3 separate regions of the Homo sapiens genome follow, and regions 1 and 3 are each linked to region 2. Evidence: fine-mapped QTL for protein levels in blood plasma. A gene starts in region 2. Each other region holds a variant in brackets. All regions are shown on one strand. Distances are from middle to middle.

The links. PIP is the chance, under the fine-mapping model, that this variant and not a neighbour inherited with it causes the effect. Protein levels are from antibody-based Olink assays in UK Biobank. Linkage for the fine-mapping came from a reference panel and not from the study's own genotypes, which makes the PIPs less certain.
Region 1: its variant is fine-mapped to the plasma level of the CD70 protein (UK Biobank, PIP above 0.99).
Region 3: its variant is fine-mapped to the plasma level of the CD70 protein (UK Biobank, PIP above 0.99).

Annotation. Positions count from the first base shown.
Region 1 is chr19:6,604,279-6,608,813 of GRCh38, reverse strand. No RefSeq gene overlaps it. Among named protein-coding and RNA genes, the nearest start is that of CD70, 15 kb to the right of the region's middle. The variant AT/T (reference allele first, on the strand shown) is at 1,860.
Region 2 is chr19:6,586,244-6,594,439 of GRCh38, reverse strand. CD70 (CD70 molecule) reads left to right here and starts at 3,290. Exons shown (of 3, transcript NM_001252.5): 1 at 3,290-3,599; 2 at 4,304-4,337; 3 at 8,035-8,196. The coding sequence starts at 3,438. It also overlaps the pseudogene RPL7P50. RefSeq lists enhancers at 1,471-1,570, 1,591-2,050, 3,121-3,520, 4,021-4,390, 5,569-5,648 and 3 more.
Region 3 is chr19:6,609,585-6,617,781 of GRCh38, reverse strand. No RefSeq gene overlaps it. Among named protein-coding and RNA genes, the nearest start is that of CD70, 23 kb to the right of the region's middle. RefSeq lists an enhancer at 1,585-1,804. The variant C/G (reference allele first, on the strand shown) is at 6,457.

The sequences.
Region 1 (4,535 bases), 16 kb before region 2:
CTCAGGAGGCTGAGGCAGGAGAATTGCATGAACCCAGGAGGTGGAGGTTGCAGAGAGCCAAGATTGTGCCACTGCACTCCAGCCTGGGCGACAGAGTGAGACTCCTACTAATAAATAAATAAAAGAAAAACTAAGTTAAAATTTGTAAGGGCATAAAACATAATTTTAATAGGAAGCTATGAGAATTATCTACACTTGCAGATAATTGAATGAGCTGAGTTATCTGATGATTGATTGAATGATCGAATTATAGGTAACTGTGATTTTTCTTTTTTTTTTTTGAGATGGAGTTTTGCTCTTGTCACCCAAACTAGAGTACAGTGGCAAGATCTCGGCTCACTGCAACCTCTGTCTCCCAGATTCAAGCGATTCTCCTGCCCGCCACCACGTCTGGCTAATTTTGGAATTTTTAGTAGAGATATGGTTTCACCATGTTGGCCAGGCTAGTCTCGAACCCCTGACCTCAGGTGATCCTCCCGCCTCGGCCTCCCGAAGTGCTGGGATTACTGGCATGAGCCACTGCGCCTGGCCTTTGCTACTTAATTTTATAAGACATCTACTTTTTCAAATATTTGCTGTTTTTGCTCTCATGATATGAAAATTTTTTTATTGTGAGGGAGCATTTCTATGAAAACAATAGTAGAAATTTGTGCCAATTTTGGTTATTAAAATAATAAAATTGTTGGGTTAGTTTGTTATTCTTAACCAAATGCTCCTACAGATAGCATATTGCACAGATGGTTTGATTGTTTTTTTTTCATCTTAGGTGAATTTTCCTTAATTTTATTCATCAAACTGTATTTACTTGAGATAAATAGACATTGTAGTTACTGTGTGCTCTACAGATCTCTACTTTTTTAAAAATAAAAATTCTCGGCCAGGCGCGGTGGCTCACGCGTGTAATCCCAGCAGTTTGGGAGGCTGAGGTGGGTGGATCAGAAGGTCAGGAGTTCAAGACCAACCTGGCAAAGATGGCAAAACCCCATCTCTACTAAAAACACAAAAAATTAGACAGGCGAGGTGGCGCAAGCCTGTAATCCCAGCTACTCGGGAGGCTGAGGCAGGAGAATCGCTTGAACCTGGGAGGCAGAGGTTGCGGTGAGCCAAGATTGCACCACTGCACTCCAGCCTGGGCAACAGGGCAAGACTCGGTCTCAAAAAAAAAAAAAAATTCTCAGTCAAAACTCTGACCTATTTTATAAAAATTTGGATTGTAAATACTACTTCGACGTAACTTATATGTACATTAATGATTAGTAAGTGGAGTAATTCTATTCTTTAAAGGGGGGAAGTCTATATGAGTGTATTAATTTGTCAAAATGGTACAGTTCAGATTGTACCTTTCAATATGTATACATTTTATCTAAAAAGAAAACCCAAAAAACTAATAAATTGGGGGGTAGGAAATGGGTCAAAGTATAGATGAAGCAAACATGGCATGACTAGTAGCTGTTCAACCTGGGTGACAAGTCTATTATACTATCTTTGTATTCTGTATATATTTTTGTTTTTTGAGATGAAGTCTGGCTCTCGTCACCCAGGCTGGAGTGCAGTGGCATGATCTCAGCTCATTGCAACCTCCGCCTCCCAGGTCCAAGCAATTCTCAAGCCTCAGCCTCCTGAGTAGCTGGGACTGCAATTGCACATGACCACGCCTGGCTAATTTTTGAATTTTTAGTAGAGAGGGAGTTTCACCATGTTGGCCAGGCTGGTCTCGAACTCCTGACCTCAGGTGATCTGCCCGCCTCGGACTCCCAAAGTTCTGGGATTACAGGCGTGAGCCACTGTACCTGGCCTGTATTTTGTGTAGGTTTTTAATGTTTGGTGACAAAACACTTGTTGAAAATGAAAAAAAAAAA[AT/T]TAGTCGGGCATGGTGCCGTGCACCTGTGGTCCCAGCTATTTGGGGGACTAAATAGGAGGATTACTTGAACCCAGGAAGCAGAAGTTGCATTAAGCCGAGATTGTGCTACGGCTCTGCACCCTGAACAACAGAGTGAGGCCCTGTCTCAACAAAAAAAAAAAAAAAAAAGGAAGAAGCCTATTTCAGCCTACCATGGGCAGAACCCCTTGCTGATCTGAATGTTGTGTGAGTAGAAAATAAACTTTTTTTTTAAGTGAAATAAGTTTAGTAAGAAAGTAAAGGAATAGGCCAGGAGTGTTAGCCTCACAGCTGTAATCCCAGCACTTTGGGAGGCCAAGGGGGGCAGATCACCTGAGGTCAGGAGATCGAGACCAGCCTGGCCAAAATGGTGAAACCCCATGTCTACTAAAAATACAAACAATTAGCCGGGTGTGGTGGCAGGCACCTGTAATCTCTGCTACTCTGGTGGCTGAGGCAGGAGAATCACTTGAGCCCAGGAGGCAAAGGTTGCAGTGAGCTGAGATCGCGCCATTGAACTCCAGCCTGGGCAACAAGAGCAAAACTCCGTCTCAAACAAACAAACAAACAAACAAACACAAAACAGAAAGTAAAGGAGTAAAGAATGGCCACTCCATAGGCAGAGCAGCCCTAAATACACCTTTATTGTGTAAAGTCTGGCCAGGGGTGGTGGCTCACGCCTGGAATCCCAACAATTTGGAAGGCCAAGGTGGGAGTATCACTTGAGGCCAAGAGTTCAGGACCAGCCTGAGCAACATAGCAAGAGCCCATCTCTCCAAAAACTTTTAAAATTAGCTGAATGTGAGGCCGGGCGCGGTGGCTCACGCCTATAATCCCAGCACTTTGAGAGGCCAAGGCAGGCGGATCACGAGGTCAGGAGATCGAGACCATCCTGGCTAACACAGTGAAACCCCGTCTCTACTAAAAACACAAAAAAATTAGCCGGGCGAGGTGGCGGGCACCTGTGGTTCCAGCTACTCGGAAGGCTGAGGCAGGAGAACGGCGTGAACCCGGGAGGCGGAGCTGGCAGTGAGCCGACATTGCACCACTGCACTCTAGCCTGGGCAACATAGCAAGACTCCAACTCAAAAAAAAAAAATAGCTGAGTGTGGTGGTGCATGCCTGTAGTCCCACCTTCTCAGGAAGCTGAGACAGGAGGATCACTCAAGCCCAGGAACTGGAGGCTGCAGGGAGCTATGATTGCACCACTGCTCTCCAGCCTGGGCGACAGAGTAAGACCCTGTCTCCAAAAGCAGTAATAATAATAAATAAATAATAATAAGAGGCCGGGCGCAGTAGCTCACACCTGTAATCCCAGCACTGTGGGAGGCCAAGGCGGGCACATTATTTGAGGTCAGGAGTTTGAGACCAGCCTGGCCAACATGGTGAAACCCTGTCTCTACTAAAAATACAAAAAAATTAGCTGGGCATAATGGCAGGCTCCTGTAGTCCCAGCTACTTGGGAGGCTGAGGCATGAGAATCACTTGACCCTGGGAGGCGGAGGTTGCAGTGAGCCCAGGCCACTGCACTCCAGCCTGGGCAACAGAGTGAGTCTCTTTCTCAGATTAATAATAGCAACAGTCGTAGTGATACAGGAGGTAGAAAGAAATTATTTAGGCAGATAGTGAAGGCAGCAGAGTCCTCGGCAGAGCTTCCCTTCTAACAAAAAGCAGCCCCCAAATCATTTCTTTTCTAACAAGCAGCAGCCTGAAAAATTGAGCTGCAAACATAGATAGGCACAGCTGGAAGCTTACACGGGAGAATGCCGGCAGGTGCGCCAATAGAAGAGAGCTACCCAGGGGCCAGGCAGGCCCTACATGGACGCTTCCTCTTCCCTTTTATGTTACCACGCGTGCAGTAACAGAAATGGGCAACATGGCGCAGCTCGGGCAGAGAACCTGCCTGCATAATAAAAGATTAGGGTCAGAGGCTACCAGAAATTTGCACCCTATGCAAATGCGACACATGGTCTAACCAGTTTTTCACACCCTATATAAATCAAACACCGTTTGCTCACTAGCTTCTCTATAAAACCCCCTACATTTCCCCGCTGATACGGCAACCCATTTTTCCGGGACCCCTCTCTGCAGCAGAGAGCTCTCCTCTTTCTTTCGCCTATGAAACTTCCATTCTCGACCTCACTCTTTCTATGTCTATGTCCTTGTTTTCCTTGGCTGTGAGACTGTGAACCTCGGGTGTTACTCCAGACAAGGAGGCCGTTTCAGTAGTAGCAATGATAGTAATAGTTCTCACCAGTTCCTTACTACGTACTGGCTCTTTGCTAAACAGTTTACAAATATTAATTCCTTCCAACCTCATAGCAAGCCTGTGAGATACTTTTATTACTTCCAGGGAACTGAGGCACAGAGAGGTTAAATCACTTGCTGCAGGTCACACAGCTGGTAAGTGTTGGAGCCAGAATGCAAATTTGGGCTGCAAGACCAGAATGAAGGTGGAAAAAAATGAAGCAGATTGTAGAAGTGTAGGGTTGGATCTGATCTTTAAAACATCTTTGCAATTTGTTCATCATGAATTTTTTTGACCTTCACTTTTTAGATTTTTTTTAAAATGTTGCCTGAGAATATCATTTATTTTGACAATGACAGTTTGAGATGCCCCCTTGAAATTTGCACTTGAGGCACAAAATTCTGTTAC
Region 2 (8,196 bases):
CCCACCCAGCAAATGCTATAGGCTCAGGCTCTGAAATCTCCCATTTTTATCTCCTTTCAATTTTTTGCTTTTTGTTGGTAATTTTGCTGTTTCAAACAGCCCCCAAATAGTGCTGAAGCCCTGTCTAATGTCCCCCAAGAGCAAGGAGGCCGTGATGAGCCTCACAGAGGAGGAAATCCACGTGTTAGAGAAGCTATCCCCAGGCACGAGTTCTAGCGCTGTTGGCTGTGAGTTTGCTGCTGATGACACTGACTTCTTGATGATTCATAGCCAGAGGCCCTTGGGACCCTAACTGTATGTATATACAGACATATTTTTCTTTCCATTTGAGAGCAGGTAATGTTTATTGAACAGCTTAGAAAAATAATTATAGTACACACCATAGTTCATTCTTCTAACAAGCCTGTTGATCTGGTCCTCCCTGTTGCCAGCATCTCCACCTTCCACGAAATGGGTGGTCTGTTTCTTCATTCTGCCTCATGGAGAAGATACTTTGAAGGACCACAGGAAGTTATGTGCTTCTTTGAAGCGTTTTCCAACAGTATGGACCTCATGAATCACATCCTCCATACAGATGATGCCATATTTTCCAAGAGATCGTGCAAAGCGTTATCTGTCAAAGCAATTCGTTTCTTATTGATTTTGCCATAACCACGCTTGTAGATTAGTTTATTTACTGACTTCAGATTTAGGTACCCGCATGCAATGTATGGCTCTACAATCCTCAGCATGTTAATTGGCCTTCACAAAGGTTCCATTGAAGATTTGACAAAGGCAAAGAAGCTGCAACACATTTCGGACCTTTGGGCTCACACCATCGATACCTCTGATCCTGATGACAAACGCCAGTCTGGATTCTGCAGGTTCATAGAAGTTGCCAGCTTTTCTTGACATCTTTTCCATTCGAATTTCAGTTCTGTACCTCTGCCTATATTCCTTGTGATAGTGCTTCAATTTTTCATAGATAAGCTTCCTCCTTGCCTTTCGAAGCATCTTTTGGGCAAACTTCTTTCTCAGGCGCTTGGTCTTCAGCTCTGTGAAATTCCTTCGCTTTTTCTTAGGGGTTTCTGGCACAGCGGGAACTTCCTTCTTCTTCTCTTCTACACCCTCCATGGTTCCAGCCGGAAAAAGAGGCTGGATCCTCTTTTTAAAAAATATATATATTTTTAAGACAGAGTCTCGCTCTGTCACCCAGGCTGGAGTGCAATGGTGTGATCTCGGCTCACTGCAACCTCTGCCTCCCGGGTTTGAGCGATTCTCCTGCCTCAGCTTCCTGAGTAGCTGGGATTAAAGGTGCCCACCACCACACCCAGCTATTTTTTGAATTTTTAGTAGAGATGGGGTTCCACCATGTTGGCCAGGCTGGTCTCCAACTCTTTTTTTTTTTTTTTTGAGACGGAGTCTCACTCTGTCACCCAGGCTGGAGTTCAGTGGCGTGATCTCGGCTCACTGCAAGCTCCACCTCCCGGGTTCACGCCATTCTCCTGCCTCAGCCTCCTGAGTAGCTGGGACTACAGGCGCCCGCCACCATGCCCGGCTAATTTTTTGTATTTTTAGTAGAGACGGGGGTTTCACCGTGTTAGCCAGGAGGGTCTCAAACTCCTGATATCAAGTGATCCGCCTGCCTCAGCCTCCCAAAGTGCTGGGATTACAGGCGTGAGCCACTGCGCCTGGCTCCTTCTTGGTGTTTCTTGACTTTCATCTGCCTCATTCAGTTTCTGTTTCTGTTTTCACACGGCTCCTTCTCTATGAGCCTCTTTTCTCTCCACCTGAGGGCCCACTCTAATCCAGTATGACCTCATTTAAGCCTAATTATATCTGCAAAAAAAACCCCGTAATTTCAAAATGAGGTCATATTCTGCAGTTCCAGGAGGCCATGAATTCTGGGAGGACACCGTTAACCCACTACAGCCATCGAGAACAGCAGCAGGAGGCTGGATGCGGTGGCTCACACCTGTCATCCCGGCACTTTGGGGGACCTACGCAGCAGGATCGCTTGAGCCCAGATGTTTGAGACCAGCCTGGTAACATAGTAACACCCTATCCTCTACCCCCCCCAAAAAAAAAATTAGCCGGGCATGGTAGCGTGTGCTGGTAGACCCAACTATGCAAAAGGCTGAGATGGGAGGGTCACTGAAGCCCAGGAGTTTGAGGCTGCTGTGAGCTGTGTGGCGCCACTGCATCCAGCCTGGGCAACAGAGCAACACTCTGTCTCTAAAAATATTAATTTAGGCCGGGCGCGGCGGCTCACGCCTGTAATCCCAGCACTTTGGGAGGCCAAGGCGGGCAGATCACGAGGTCAGGAGATGGAGACCATCCTCGCTAACATGGTGAAAACCCATCTCTACTAAAAATACAAAAAGTTAGCCGGGCGTGGTGGCGGGCGCCTGTAGTCCCAGCTACTTGAGAGGCTGAGGCAGGAGAATGGCGTGAACCCGGGAGGCGGAGCTTGCAGTGAGCCGAGATGGCGCCACTGCACTCCAGCCTGGGCGACAGAGCGAGACTCTGTCTCAAAAAAAAAAAAAATAAATAATAAAATAAAATAAAAATAAAAAATAAAAATATTAACTTAATTTAACTTTAAACAAAAAAGCAGGTGGTCTCCAAGAATGCAGGAGATAACTGACCGGGTGCAGTGTCTCATGCCTTTAATCCCAGCACTTTGGAAGGCCAAGGCGGGTGGATCACCCAAGGTCAGGAGTTCAAGTCCAGCCTGGCCAACATGGTGAAACCCCATCTCTACTAAAAATACAAAAAATTAGCCAGGCATGGTGGCGCGCGCATGTTACTCCCAGCTACTCGCGAGGCTCAGACAGGAGAATCGCTTGAACCCAGGAGATCGAGGTTGCGGCGAGCTGAGATGGCGCCACTGCACTCCAGCCTGGGTGACAGAGGGAGACCTCCGTCTCAAAAACAAAACAAATCAAAAAAATGCAGGAGAGGGGTACACGAATATTTGGGGAGCACCCCCAATTCTTGGATGTCTGCTGTATCCCCAGTGCACAGCACAATCTAATCCCTAATAAATGTGCAGTGGAGGTTTGTTGAATAAATGAATGGGCCCCAGAAGAATGAGGTGGAGAGGGGAATAGGAAGATTGAATGTCTCCTGCCTGAAGGTCGGGCGGGGAGGGGTTGGGGGCAGGCAACTCTGAGGCTCACCCGGGGCCACTGCCTGCATCCTGGCAACTGCCTCCACCCACTTTAGGATCTTCAGACTGGCAGCGGTTGGAGGGAATTTCCCCTCGCCAATTGCTCAAGTCCCTCCCCTCGACCGGCCGGACATCCCCAGAGAGGGGCAGGCTGGTCCCCTGACAGGTTGAAGCAAGTAGACGCCCAGGAGCCCCGGGAGGGGGCTGCAGTTTCCTTCCTTCCTTCTCGGCAGCGCTCCGCGCCCCCATCGCCCCTCCTGCGCTAGCGGAGGTGATCGCCGCGGCGATGCCGGAGGAGGGTTCGGGCTGCTCGGTGCGGCGCAGGCCCTATGGGTGCGTCCTGCGGGCTGCTTTGGTCCCATTGGTCGCGGGCTTGGTGATCTGCCTCGTGGTGTGCATCCAGCGCTTCGCACAGGCTCAGCAGCAGCTGCCGCTCGAGTCACTTGGGGTGAGTTGAGATGGAAAAGTTGGGAAGAAAACATAGAGAGGCGCGTGACCGAAAAGACAGAATGAGATGGGTACAAAGAGGCCAGAGAGGAAGATCTGGTAGGGCAGAGACAGAGACCAGAACAGGGAGGCGAGGCGGGGACCAGGCTGCCCGGTGTAGGGGCTACGAGACAGGCAGCCCTGCCAGGAGGTACAGGGAGATCCCGGGATGGGAAAGGTAGGCACACATGGAAATGGAAGATGACTCGGCTCTGGTGTTCCCCCGGCAGGCTGACTCAGAGGCTGCTGGGGGCTTCACAAGGCTGGGCGTGGGGGCTTCCTGGGGCCTCCTAGGACGGGATGGCCCCAGCCACTCGCTCCGGGTGGGGGAGGGGTCCCTTTGGGGACCGCGCCGGGCGCCTTTGCAGCGTAGAGAGTCCGCTGCGCGCGGTGCTCTCGCGCCCAGTGACATCCAGGAAAACGATTCGGGAAACGAAGAAGTTCTTTTGAAGGTCTCGACTTCACGTTCCCCGCTGGTTCAGACCTGCTTCCTCTTTAAGAAGTCTTAAGAGTAAAAAAAAATAAAATGAAATAAAATCACCAGTGCGCGCCGTGGGATGAGAGGTGGAAAGGAGGATGGACAGAGAAAAGAGAGCTCCTGGCACAGGGGACACATAGAACCTCTCTGCTTACGTCCGTGCCCTGTTTTCTGGTCTTTTCTTCCAGTGGGACGTAGCTGAGCTGCAGCTGAATCACACAGGTAACACGGGGGACGTGGAGGGACGGGGAGAAGAAGAGGCACAGAGAGAGAAGGAAGGAGAGGTAGAAAGACAAGTGGGGAGAGACAGAGAGAAAGAGACACAGACAGAGACGGAGGGAGAGAGGGAGGGAGAGATAGGGAGGGAAACGGAGAGGGGGAGACAGAGAGAAGACAGAGAGGGAGGGAGAGGCCCAGAGAAAGGGAGGGAGAGACAGAAAAAAGAACAGAGAGAGGGACAGAGGGGACAGACGGGACAGGAGAAGAAGGGGAAAGAAAGAAACAGGGAGAGACGCAGGGAGAGTGGAAGAGGGAGGGAGGGAGACAGGCGGGGGAGACAGAACGAGAGAGAGGGAGAGAGACGGAGAAAGAGAAAAAAGACAGATAGAGGAAGAGAGAATAAAAACGAGAGAGGCGACCTGGCGTGGTTGCTGGAGCCTGTAATCCCAGCGCTTTCGGAGGGCGCGGCGGGTGGATCACTTGAGCCCAGGAGTTTGAGACCAGCCTGGCCAACATGGTGAAACCCCGTCTCTACTAAAATTACAAAAATTAGCCGGGTGTGGTGGCAGGCACCTGTAATCCCAGCTACTCAGGAGGCCGAGGCAGGAGAATCGCCTGAACCTGGGAGGCAGAAGTTGCAGTGAGCCAAGATAATGGCACTGCTCTCCAGCCTGGGTGACAGAGGGAGATTCTGTCAAATAAATAAATAAAAAGAAGAAAGGAAAAGAAAAAGAAAGAAAGGAAGGAAGGAAAAGAAAGAGAAGAAGGAAGGAAGGAGAGAGGGAGGGAGGTGAGAGAGAGAGAAAGGAAAAAGAAAGAAGAAAGAGAAAAAAAGAAATAAGAGAAAGAAAAGAAAGAAAGCCAGAGAGAGGAAAAGAGAAGGAGAATAACAGAGAGGAAGAGACAGAGACAGAGAGGGGGAAGAAGAAAAACAGGGCGGGGGAGAAAGAGATCATTCCCAAGAGAAAAAGGAAAAGGGAGAGAACGAGAGAGAGAGAGAGGAGAGAGAGAGCGAGCAGGTTTGTGTTTCTGGGCATCCACTACCTTTCTCTCCCTTTCCCTCTCAGTCCTTCACATTCGATCTCCTCCCTTGGAAGAATCAAAGGGGTTTTGTTAGTAAACGAAAACGCTCACAGGAAAGGCTACCCTTCCTCCATTCATGCTACAAGCACTAATTATACATCTGCAGTGGGCAGGCACTGTTCCGGTACTGCAGTCGCGCACAAAACAGACAGAAATCCCTGCCTGGTGAGCTTCCCTTCTACTATCACTCCTACCGAGGAGGAGATGACCAAAAAAATAAAAACGAACATGTGAAAAACAGAGCAATGCCACGTAGAGTAAAACAGGCCAAGAGCAGGTTTTAGAGAAAAAATCAGGCAAGGAGGTGGGTGGGGAATCCGGGCATGCCAGGGTTGGGGATTTTCATTTAAAGTGGAGTCGCGGCGGTCGGGTGGGGGGGTGGTATCTGAGTGGGTGGCATTGGCAAGAAGCCTTGAGGGAGAAGAAATGAACAGTTCTGCTCTAGGTGGAAGTCTCTACCTCCTCCCAGCCTCTCTCGAACGCTTCTTCCTCTTCTGTTTTTCCACGGTTCATCCCCAGAGACTAAAATTACTGCACGCTTGCGTGTTTTGTTCCTTCCATTTTGTAATGGAAGGGACCTTTGTTGCTCTCTCTTCTCCTTGGGTCTCTGACCCCTGATATATCTTCCCCCCCTCCCCGGCCTTTGCCATATTTTTCCTGTAATTTGGTCTTGAGGCCCCTTTCTGGAGAGTGGCTGTCCAGCCCCACATCGATGGGGCACCAGGGGTGGTGGCCACAGGTGTTGACAGTGTCTTTCACAGGACAGCTCTTTCTTCTGGTGGATGATATCATGCCTAAGTGTGTGACAGGGGACCAGGTGTCACTCTTACAGGAAATTTGCAAAGCCTGGTAAACACCCTTGGGGCTCCTGTTTGACCCCGTTCAGTTCCTTCCTAACAAGATAGCCAGTCTCCAGGAGAGCCTTGAGTGAGGAGGAGAGTGAGGCTCAGGTGTGTCAGTCAGATAAGTTGCGGAGACAGGAGACGCTGAGATGAAACACGTGAAATATAGCCGAGGACCTTGGCTCCCGGCTGTGATCCCAGCGCTTTGGGAGGCTGAGGTGGGAGGATCGCTTGAGCCCAGGAGTTCTAGACTATGTTTCTTGGGAAACATAGCAAGACCACCATCTCTAGAACAAAATTTTGAAAATTAGCTGGTCATGGTGGCGCATGCCACCTCCCAGTGACTCGGGAGGCTGAGGTGGGAGATAGCTTGAGCCCCAGAGGCTGAGGCTGCAGTGAGCTATGATTGCACCACTGCACTCCAGCCTGGGTGACAGGACCAGACCCTGTCTCTAAAGAAAATAAAGATCCTAGAGAGAAGAGGGCCAACGGGAAGGTAGGGGAGCTCTCTGAGACACACACTCAACCAGCGGGTGGAAAGCAAGAAAAAAAAAGGGTCCTGGGAGCCAAAGCTTTTATTGGCGTTCAGGGTGTGACCCGAGCAGGCGTCCCTTGGGGAATTCTCTCGTGCACTCTCTTGCGCGCTGTCTCGTGCGCACGCTGTCTCTCTCGTGCTGTCTGTCTCACTCTCTCAGGCACTCTCTCGCTCACTCCCGTGCACTCTCGAGCTCTGTAGCTCTCATCCTCTCTCACACACACACTCTCCCATGCACTCTCTCGAGCTCACTCTCACACTCTGTCTCGTGCACTCTCTCTCAAGCTCTCTCGTCCTCTCTCACACACACACTCTCTCTCTTGCTCTCTCTCTCATGCTGTCTCTCGTACTCTCTCCTGCTCTCTCGTGCTCTCTCTCACTCTCTCGTGCACTCTCCCTCAAGCTCTCTCGTCCTCTCTCTCACACTCTCTCGCTGTCTCATGCTCTCTCTCCCTCATGATCTCTCTCTCTCTCATGCTGTCTCTTGCACTCTCTCCTGCTCTCTCGTGCTCTCTCGCACTCTCTCGTGCACTCTCCCTCAAGCTCTCTCGTCCTCTCACACACTCTCTCGCTCTCTCATGCTCTCTCTCTCATGCTCTCTGTCGCACTCTCTCGTGCACTCTCGTCCTCTCTCACACATACACTCTCTCTCTTGCTCTCTCTCTGCATTCTCTCTCTATATATCTCTCCCTCCCCCTCTATCTTTACCCTTGTCTGTTTCTGTTTTTTTTTTTTTTTTTTTTGTCTCTCTCTCTCCTGGTGTCTCTCTCTCCCTGTCTCTACCCCTTTCCCCTTACCCCTCTCTCCTTCCCTTTAGATCTCTAACCTTCTATCCCCCTCCCTTTTTTTTGAGACAGGGTTTCTGTGACCAAGGCTGGAGTGCAGTGGTGTGATCATAGCTCACTGCAGTCTCAGCCTCCCAGGCTCAAGCGATCCTCCAGCCTCAGCCTCCCAAGAGTAGCCAGGACCAGAGGCGTGCACCACCACACCTGGCTGACTTTTTATTTTTTGTAGAGATGGGGTCTCGCCCTGTTGTCCAGGCTGGTCTTGAACTGCTGACCTCAGGTGATCCACCCGCCTTGGCCTCCTAAACTGTTAGGATTTCAGGCATGAGCCACCACGTCCAACCTATTCCTTGATCTCTAACTCTCGATCTCTATATCTGACTTTCTCTATGACCCCCTGTGCCTCAGTTTCCCTAAACCTCCATCCTCTCATCCCTCTAACCCTGTGCCCCCAGGACCTCAGCAGGACCCCAGGCTATACTGGCAGGGGGGCCCAGCACTGGGCCGCTCCTTCCTGCATGGACCAGAGCTGGACAAGGGGCAGCTACGTATCCATCGTGATGGCATCTACATGGTACACATCCAGGTGACGCTGGCCATCTGCTCCTCCACGACGG
Region 3 (8,197 bases), 23 kb before region 2:
GAATTTCTTTTTAGTCCTTTTTTAAATATAGGTTCTATCTCTTTGTTGAATTTGTCATTTCATTATGTTTTGTTTCCCATTCAGTTGTCTCTCTGTGTTCTCTTATAATTCACTGAGCTTCTTTAAGATGATTATTTTGAATTTTTCATCTGGAGTTCGTTGATGTCCACTTCTTTTGTGTCAGTTTCTCATACTTTATTTTGTTCTTTTGGTGATGTCATGTTTCTCTGATTATTCATGATCCTTATGGCCTTGCATTAGTGTCTGTGCATTTGAAGTAGTCAGTTCTTTACATACTGGCTTTAGCAGGAAAAGCACTTTGCCAGTCAGCCTATCTAGAGATTCTAGGCAGCCTGTTTGGTGGGGAGTTGCTGGTGGACTTCTCGCTGGAGTCCTTGAGAGGGATTGCCTGGTGCCTATTTCAGCAAGAGAGGAGGCTTGGCACCTGGTTCCACAGGGGCTGACCTGGTGCCTGGATCCCCTGGGATGGAACTGGAGTTTGAGTCCACATGAATGATTGCGTGTGTGTGTGTGTGTGTGTGTGTGTGTGTGTGATAACAGATCAATTTTAATTCTAGCACCTGAAGCTATACAAGGGTATGCTCTATAAACTTCATGGGACTGTTGCACATGCTGGATAAAATGACATCTGTGCAATACCACTTAGCATCTCAAAATCAGGAACATACTATTGAATTGCTTAAACACAATCCACAGAATTAAAAACAAAAGCAGATGCCATCCACAGTTACACTAATTGTCCATTAAAAGTTTACACTTAATGCTTGATATAACAATCAATATCTAGCAGGGAATATTGAAAGGGATTTCAGAGTCTCATCCTGTTGTACTCTATTGGGAAGGTTTCTTGAGTACATATGTGACTGGCCAAAGATGGATACAACCAAGACCAGACCAGCAAGTAAAAGTTCTACAACAGTTTCTGTAGTTTCCACTTGCTTTTCTCTGGACAGCCTGTATCCGTGTTCGCTAAAGTGGAACTCGGGCTCAGGTCTGCAGTGCAGCCAGGAACTCACTTTACTCTCCATCCCCCATGAAGTGGGTTTCTCTCTCTGTGCTGCCTTGGGTTCAGGAAGGGGATGATGCAGATCAAGTGAAACTCTTTCCTACCATCTTCAGTACATCTTTTCTTTTCTTTTTCTTGTTTTTCTTTCTTTTTGCCTTTTTTTTTTTTTTTTTTTTTTTGAGATGGAGTCTCGCTCTGTCGCCCAGGTTGGAGTGCAATGGCGCGATCTCGGCTCACCGCAACCTCTGCCTCCCGGTTCAAGACATTCTTCTGCCCCAGCCTCCTGAGTACCTGGGATTACAGGTGCGTCCACCACGTCTGGCTAATTTTTTTTTTGTATTTTTAGTAGAGATGGGGTTTCTCCATGTTCATCAGGCTGGTTGGAACTCCTGACCTCAGGTGATCCACCCACCTCGGCCTCCAAAAGTGCTGGAATTACAGGCGTGAGCCACCATGCTCGGCCTATCTTTTCTTACCGTTATTTTCCATTCAAGTTCTGTGGTCTCTCAGCTGATTCTTTGACTCTTGTGAAAGTATTTTTCTGCACAGAAGATTATTGAAATGAATGTTTCTGTGAAAGGATAAAGGTTCGAAACATATCCTGCCACATTGTTGACTCACTCTCAGAGTCATGCCCAGTCTTGCCAATTTCCACTGTTGAATAAGGGGGATTCCACGTGGTTTTACTTTTTTTTGGAGTAATGTAGCTAAATATGCTCTCTAGTATTGTCCACTTGTATATTATTTTATGTGAAGTGTTGCTTCACATCTTTTATATCTTTTAAAAGTAGGTTGTCTTTTTCTTTTTGCCTTACAGAATTTTTTTTTTTTTGTGACAGAGTCTCGCTCTGTTGCCCAGGCTGGAGTACAGTGGCACGATCTCAGCTCACTGTAACCTCTGCCTCCCAGGTTGAAGTGATTCTCCTGCCTCAGCCTCCTGAGTAGCTGGGATTACAGGTGCACACCACCACGCCCAGCTAATTTTTTTTTTTTTTTTTTTTTTTTTTTTTGAGAAGGAGTCTTGCTCTGTCGCCCAGGCTGGAGTGCAGTGGCATGATCTCGGCTCACTGCAAGCTCCGTCTCCCAGGTTCATGCCATTCTCCTGCCTCAGCCTCCCAAGTAGCTGGGACTACAGGCGCCCGCCACCATGCCCGGCTAATTTTTTGTATTTTTAGTAGAGACGGGGTTTCACCGTGTTAGCCAGGATGGTCTCGATCTCCTGACCTCGTGATCCGCCCGCCTCAGCCTCCCAAAGTGCTGGGATTACAGGCATGAGCCACTGCACCCGGCCAAGCAATTATTTTTATAATCCCACTGGATTGTAGTCCCTGATGGCACTAATACCACACTGTTTAACTTGCTGTAGCCTTTTAATAAGACTCAATATATAGTAGAGTCTCTCCATTCTGTTCTTTTTACAGATCATCTTGTCTTTCTTAGTTCTTTGCATTTCCCTGTGTTTTTATTAGAATCAGTCTCTCTCTCTCTCTCTCCTCTCTCTCTCTCACGCGCACACACATACACACACACACACGTATACTTCCTGCTGAGGTATTGACTGGGATTGCATTGAATCTATAGATCAATAGATATTGGTGTAGAATTGGTGTCTTCATGGTATTAAATGTTCCAACCTCTTGGCCATGGTATATCCTTCTATTTATTTAAGCTTTCTTTAATTTTCTCAGTAACATTTTATGGTTTTTGGTGTAGAATTTATATAGTGCTTCCATTAGATGTAGTCCCAGGTATTTGATATATTTTTGTTGAGTTTGTAAATGACATAGTTTTACATGTCTTTTCTAGTTGACAGTGGTATATAAAAATATGATTTATTTTTGTACTTTGGCTTTGCCTCCGGTGTTGTTGCTAAATCAATATATTAAAACTATGTGTAGGCCGGGCGCAGTGGCTTATGCCTGTAATCCCAGCACTTTGGGAGGCTGAGGTGGGCGGATCCCCTGAGGTCAGGAGTTTGAGACCAGCCTGGGCAACATGGTGAAACCTCATCTCTACTAAGAATACAAAAATTAGCCGGGTGTGGTAGTGCATGCCTGTAATCCCAGCTACTCAGGAGGCTGAGGCAACAGAATTGCTTGAACCCGGGAAGAGAAGGTCGTGGTGAGCCAAGATATACCACTGTACTCCAGCCTGGGCAACAGAGCAAAACTCTGTCTCAAAAAAAAAAAAAAAAAAAAAAAACTATGTGTAGGTTGGGCGTGGTGGCCCACACCTGTAATCCAAGTACTTTGGAAGGCTGAGATGGGTGGATCACCTGAGACCAGAAGTTTGAGACCACCCTGGCCTACACGATAAAACCACATCTCTACTAAAACTACAGAAAAAATTAGCTGGGTGTGGTGGTGAGCACCTGTTGTCCCAGCTACTTGGGAGGTTGAGGGAGGAGAATTGCTTGAACCTGGGAGGCAGAGGTTGCAGTGAGCCGAGATTGCACCACTGCACTCCAGCCTGGGCGACACAGTGAGTCCATCTCAAAAGTAAAAATAAAACTATGTGTAGATTATTTAGAATTTTCTTTTTTTTTTTTTTTTGAGACAGAGTCTCACTCTGTCACCCAGGCTGGAGTGCAGTGGTGTGATCTCGGCTCACTGTAAGCTCCACCTCCTGGGTTCACGCCATTCTCCTGCCTCAGCCTCCCAAGTAGCTGAGACTACAGGCGGCTAGTTCTTTGTATTTTTAGTAGAGACAGGGTTTCACCGTGTTAGCCAGGATAGTCTCGATCTCCTGGCCTCATGATCCACCCACCTCGGCCTCCTAAAGTGCTGGGGTTACAGGCGTGAGCCACAATGACTGGCCTAGAATTTTCTACATACATAATGAAGTAATCTCTAAATAATGACTCATTTCTTCCTATTCAATCTTTTTGTCTCATTGCATTGACTAAAACCTCAAGTTCAATATTAGCTAACTCATTTCCTAATTTTAAAAAACGTGCAGCTCACTGCCAGAGTTCATTTAACTTTACATAAACACACTTGTTGAGGCTGAAGCAAATCTGGTTGAGTTTCAATGTGCAAATAAAATATAAAAACTGTTCTTGGAGTTATTTCTGAACAGAATTTGTCTCTAATCCTAATGTAGCAGAAATGTATATGATGTTACATTGGGATTAGAGACAAGAGTATTCTCGGGGCAAATGGGAAATGGGTTAAAAGTAGTAATAACAATCCTGGCCGGGTGTGGCGGCTCACGCCTGTAATCCCAGCATTTTGAGAGGCCAAGGTGAGCAGATCACCTGAGGCCAGGAGTTCGAGACCAGCCTGGTCCAACGTGGCGAAATATCATCTCTACTAAAAATACAAAAATTAGCCAGGCATGGTGGTGGGCACCTGCAATCCCAGCTACCCGGAAGGATGAGGCAGGAGAATTGCTTGAACCCGGGAGTTGGAGGTTGCAGTGGGCCAAGATTATGCCACTGCACTCCAGCCTGGGTGACAAACTGAGACTTCATCTCAAAAAAAAAAAAAAAAAGAGAACATAAATTATTCTACTATAAAGACACACGCACCATATGTTTATTGCAGCACTATTTACAATAGCAAAGTCATGGCACCAACCCAAATGTCCATCGATGATAGACTGGATAAAGAAAATGTGGTACCTATACACCATGGAATACTACGCAGTCATAAAAAGGAAAGAGATCGTGTCCTTTGCAGGGACATGGATGAAGCTGGAAACCATCACCCTCAGCAAACTAACACAGGAACAGAAAACCAAACACCGCATGTTCTCACTCATAAGTGGGAGCTGAACAATGAGAACACATGGACACAGGGAGGGGAACGTCACACATCGGGCCTGTTGGGGGGTGAGAAGTGAGAGGAGGCAACTTAGAGGACGGGTCAGCAGGTGCAGCAAACCGCCATGGCACACATATACTTATGTAACAAACCTGCATGTTCTGCACATGTATCCCGGAACTTAAAGTTAAAAAAAAAAAATTGACCGGGCGCGGTGGCTCACACCTGTAATCCCAGCACTTTGGGAGGCCAAGGCGGGCGGATCACGAGGTCAGGAGATCGAGACCATCCTGGCTAACACGGTGAAACCCCGTCTCTACTAAAAATACAAAAAATTAGCCGGGCGTGGTGGCAGACACCTGTAGTCCCAGCTACTCGGGAAGCTGAGGCAGGAGAATGGCATGAACCTGGGAGACGGAGCTTGCAGTGAGCCGAGATCACGCCACTGCACTCCAGCCTGGGCAAGAGAGCAAGACTCCGTCTCAAAAAAGAAAAAAAATTAGCCAGGTGTGGTGGTACACACCCATAATCCCAGCTACTCAGGAGGCTGAGGCAGGAGAATGGCATGAACCCGGGAGGCAGAGGTTACAGTGAGCTGAGAGCACACCACTGCAGTCCAGCTTGGGCGAAAAGAGCCAGACTCCATCTCAAAAAAAAAAAAAAATCACCAACATATTTTCTATCTCTGGTTTCTCAAAAACTAAGGATTACTTACCTTATTAAATCTTCACATACCCCTACTGAATCCCTGGGTAGATGCGTTCTCTCTGTTTACTAACCAAAATATTAAATATAATCATTGCAACTCTCTCTTATGTCTTCCAGTGGTCAGAAGTGTATCATAGCATTTCATATTTATCTTATCTTTGTAACCTGCATTTTTACCAGTTCAATATAATTTTCACATATTGATTGCTAAAGAGTGAAATGAAGGAATTAGGTTAAAATGTTTTTATTGGAAACTATCATGTCAAGTACCTTTTTTTTTTTTTTTTTTTTTGAGACAGAGCCTCACTCTGTCACCCAGGCTGGAGTGCAGTAGTGCGATCTCGGCTCACTGCAACCTCTGCCTCCCGGTCTCAAGCGATTCTCCCACCTCAGCCTCTCAAGTAGCTGGGACTACGGGAGTGTGCCACCTCACCCAAGGAATTTTTGTATTTTTCTTTTTTGTAGAGACAGGATTTCACCATGTTGCCCAATGTGGTGAAGTACTTTTAATGTGGAAATTTCCAATAGCCATATGAGTTTGGGCATATCTCAGAAAGTCAGCAAACAGTGAGATCAAGCAAAAAGACGGAGTAGAAAGCTCTGGGAGCCCCTCCCTCCAGTGAAATAAACAGTGAACTGAGGGGCAGGAGACACAGAATCAATGATTTCAGAACTAGTCATCCTGTTGCAGCACTTATAATAATGAGAGGAGTGCTTGATGAAAAGAGAGACTGAGACTTTAGAAAGAGAACAGCCTTCACAAACCAGCCCCCACTCCCCATTCCTCCGTCCGAGTGGGGCAATTTGGAGACAGTCCATTTTCCTCAAACAGGTGACCAGTGCCAGAGCAGGCAGTTGAGACCTTGGCCTCCAAAATTTGGGGAATTTGCACTCTACTAGGTCTGGCAATTCCTGAGAAGCCAATAAGATGCTTGTTTTGGCTCTCTTGAGTCCCTT[C/G]GTATCCCTCAGACTTAGAGGTTCGATGCCTTGTAAAATCTTTGTCATGTTACTAACTGACCACAAAATGGAAAAGACACTTCAGTGATCACACCCAAAGGATACACAGTTGCCAAAAAACAGTCGGGAAAAGTCAGAAATGAATAGTTTCAGCCTTCAGTAAGCAGAAATCAGCAATCCATGAAGACTTGGAGCATCGGAGTTCCAGACTTATGAATCATAATACTCAGGATGTCCAGTTGTAATTACAAAGCATAAAGACATAGGAAAGTATAACTCATTTACAATAAACCATGATTTAACATATACTGTTACTAGGGAAGCCCACACATTGAAACTATTAGTCAAAGACATTAAATCAACTGTCTCCAATGTGTTCAGTGAGATGAAGGAAAATATGGACAAAGAACTAAAGCAGATCATGAGAATGATATATGAAAGAAGTGAGAATGTCAATAGAAAGAAATAAATTATTAAAAATTCACAAACAGGAATTCTGGAGCTGAAAGTTACAATAATGGAGGTGATAATTCATTAGACGAATTCAAGAACAGATTTGAGTAGGTAGAAAAAAGATCAACAAACTTGAAGATAAGGCAACCATAAAGTTAGCAAATCCAAGAAGCAGGGGAAAAAAGTGAAGACAAATACACAGAGCCGGCCGGGTGCGGTGGGATGTTAACAATGGGATTGTTTGTGGAGCAGGGGGCTCTAGGGGTGTGTGGGAACTTTTTGTATTTTCTGCTCAATTTTGCTGCGAAACTAAAACTGCTCTAAAAAGACTTTTTTTTTTTTTTTTTTTTTTTGAGACGGAGCTTCACTCTTGTTGCCTAGGCTGGAGTGCAATGGAGCGATCTTGGCTTACCGCAACCTCCACCTCCCAGGTTCAAGCAATTCTCCTGCCTCAGCCTCCCAAGTTGCTGGGATTACAGGCATGAGCCACCACACCCATAAAAGCCTATTTTTTAAAAAGTTTTGACTAGTACCTTTTCCCCATTACACCTCTGTCCCACTCATCCTTTAAAATGTATTTTGACTGTGATATCAGCTGGGGCATGACTTCAGAGGAAAAGGTATTGTATAAAAGGAACTCTGGAGTCAAAATAAAGTTTGAGTTTTGAATTTTGGCTTTGCTTTATTTATTTATTTTTATTTATTTATTTATTTTTCTTTTTGAGACAGAGTCTCACTCTGTCACCTAGGCTGGAGTGCAGTGGCACGATCTCAGCTCACTGCAACCTCCGCCTCCTGGTTTCAAGTGATTCTCATGTCTTGGCCTCCCAAGTAGCTGGGATTACAGGCACCCGCCCCCATGCCTGGCTAATTTTTGTATTTTTAGTAGAGATAGGGTTTCACCATGTTGGCCAGGCTTGTCTCGAACTCCTGACCTCAAGTGATCAGCCTGCCTCAGCCTCCCAAAGTTTTGGGATTACAGGCGTGAGCTACCACGCCTGGCCAGCTTTTACCTTTAATAAGGTACTTAACCTTTTTAAAACCTAAGTTTTCTTATCATTGTTCACTGTGTCCTTTCATATACGTACGTTATGGAAATATCTATGGATTGTTTTTAAAATTCTAGTTGTTGCTGAAAATTCACAAAAGGCATCTCAAGATAATACTACTTATCTCCCAGGGCTGTTGGAATATTAACTGAGACCATTTTGTTGCTGTTGTTTTTGTTTGTTTTTTGAGACCATATTTATTTTTAAAATAAAAACAGAATGCAAGAAAGTTGGCCTGA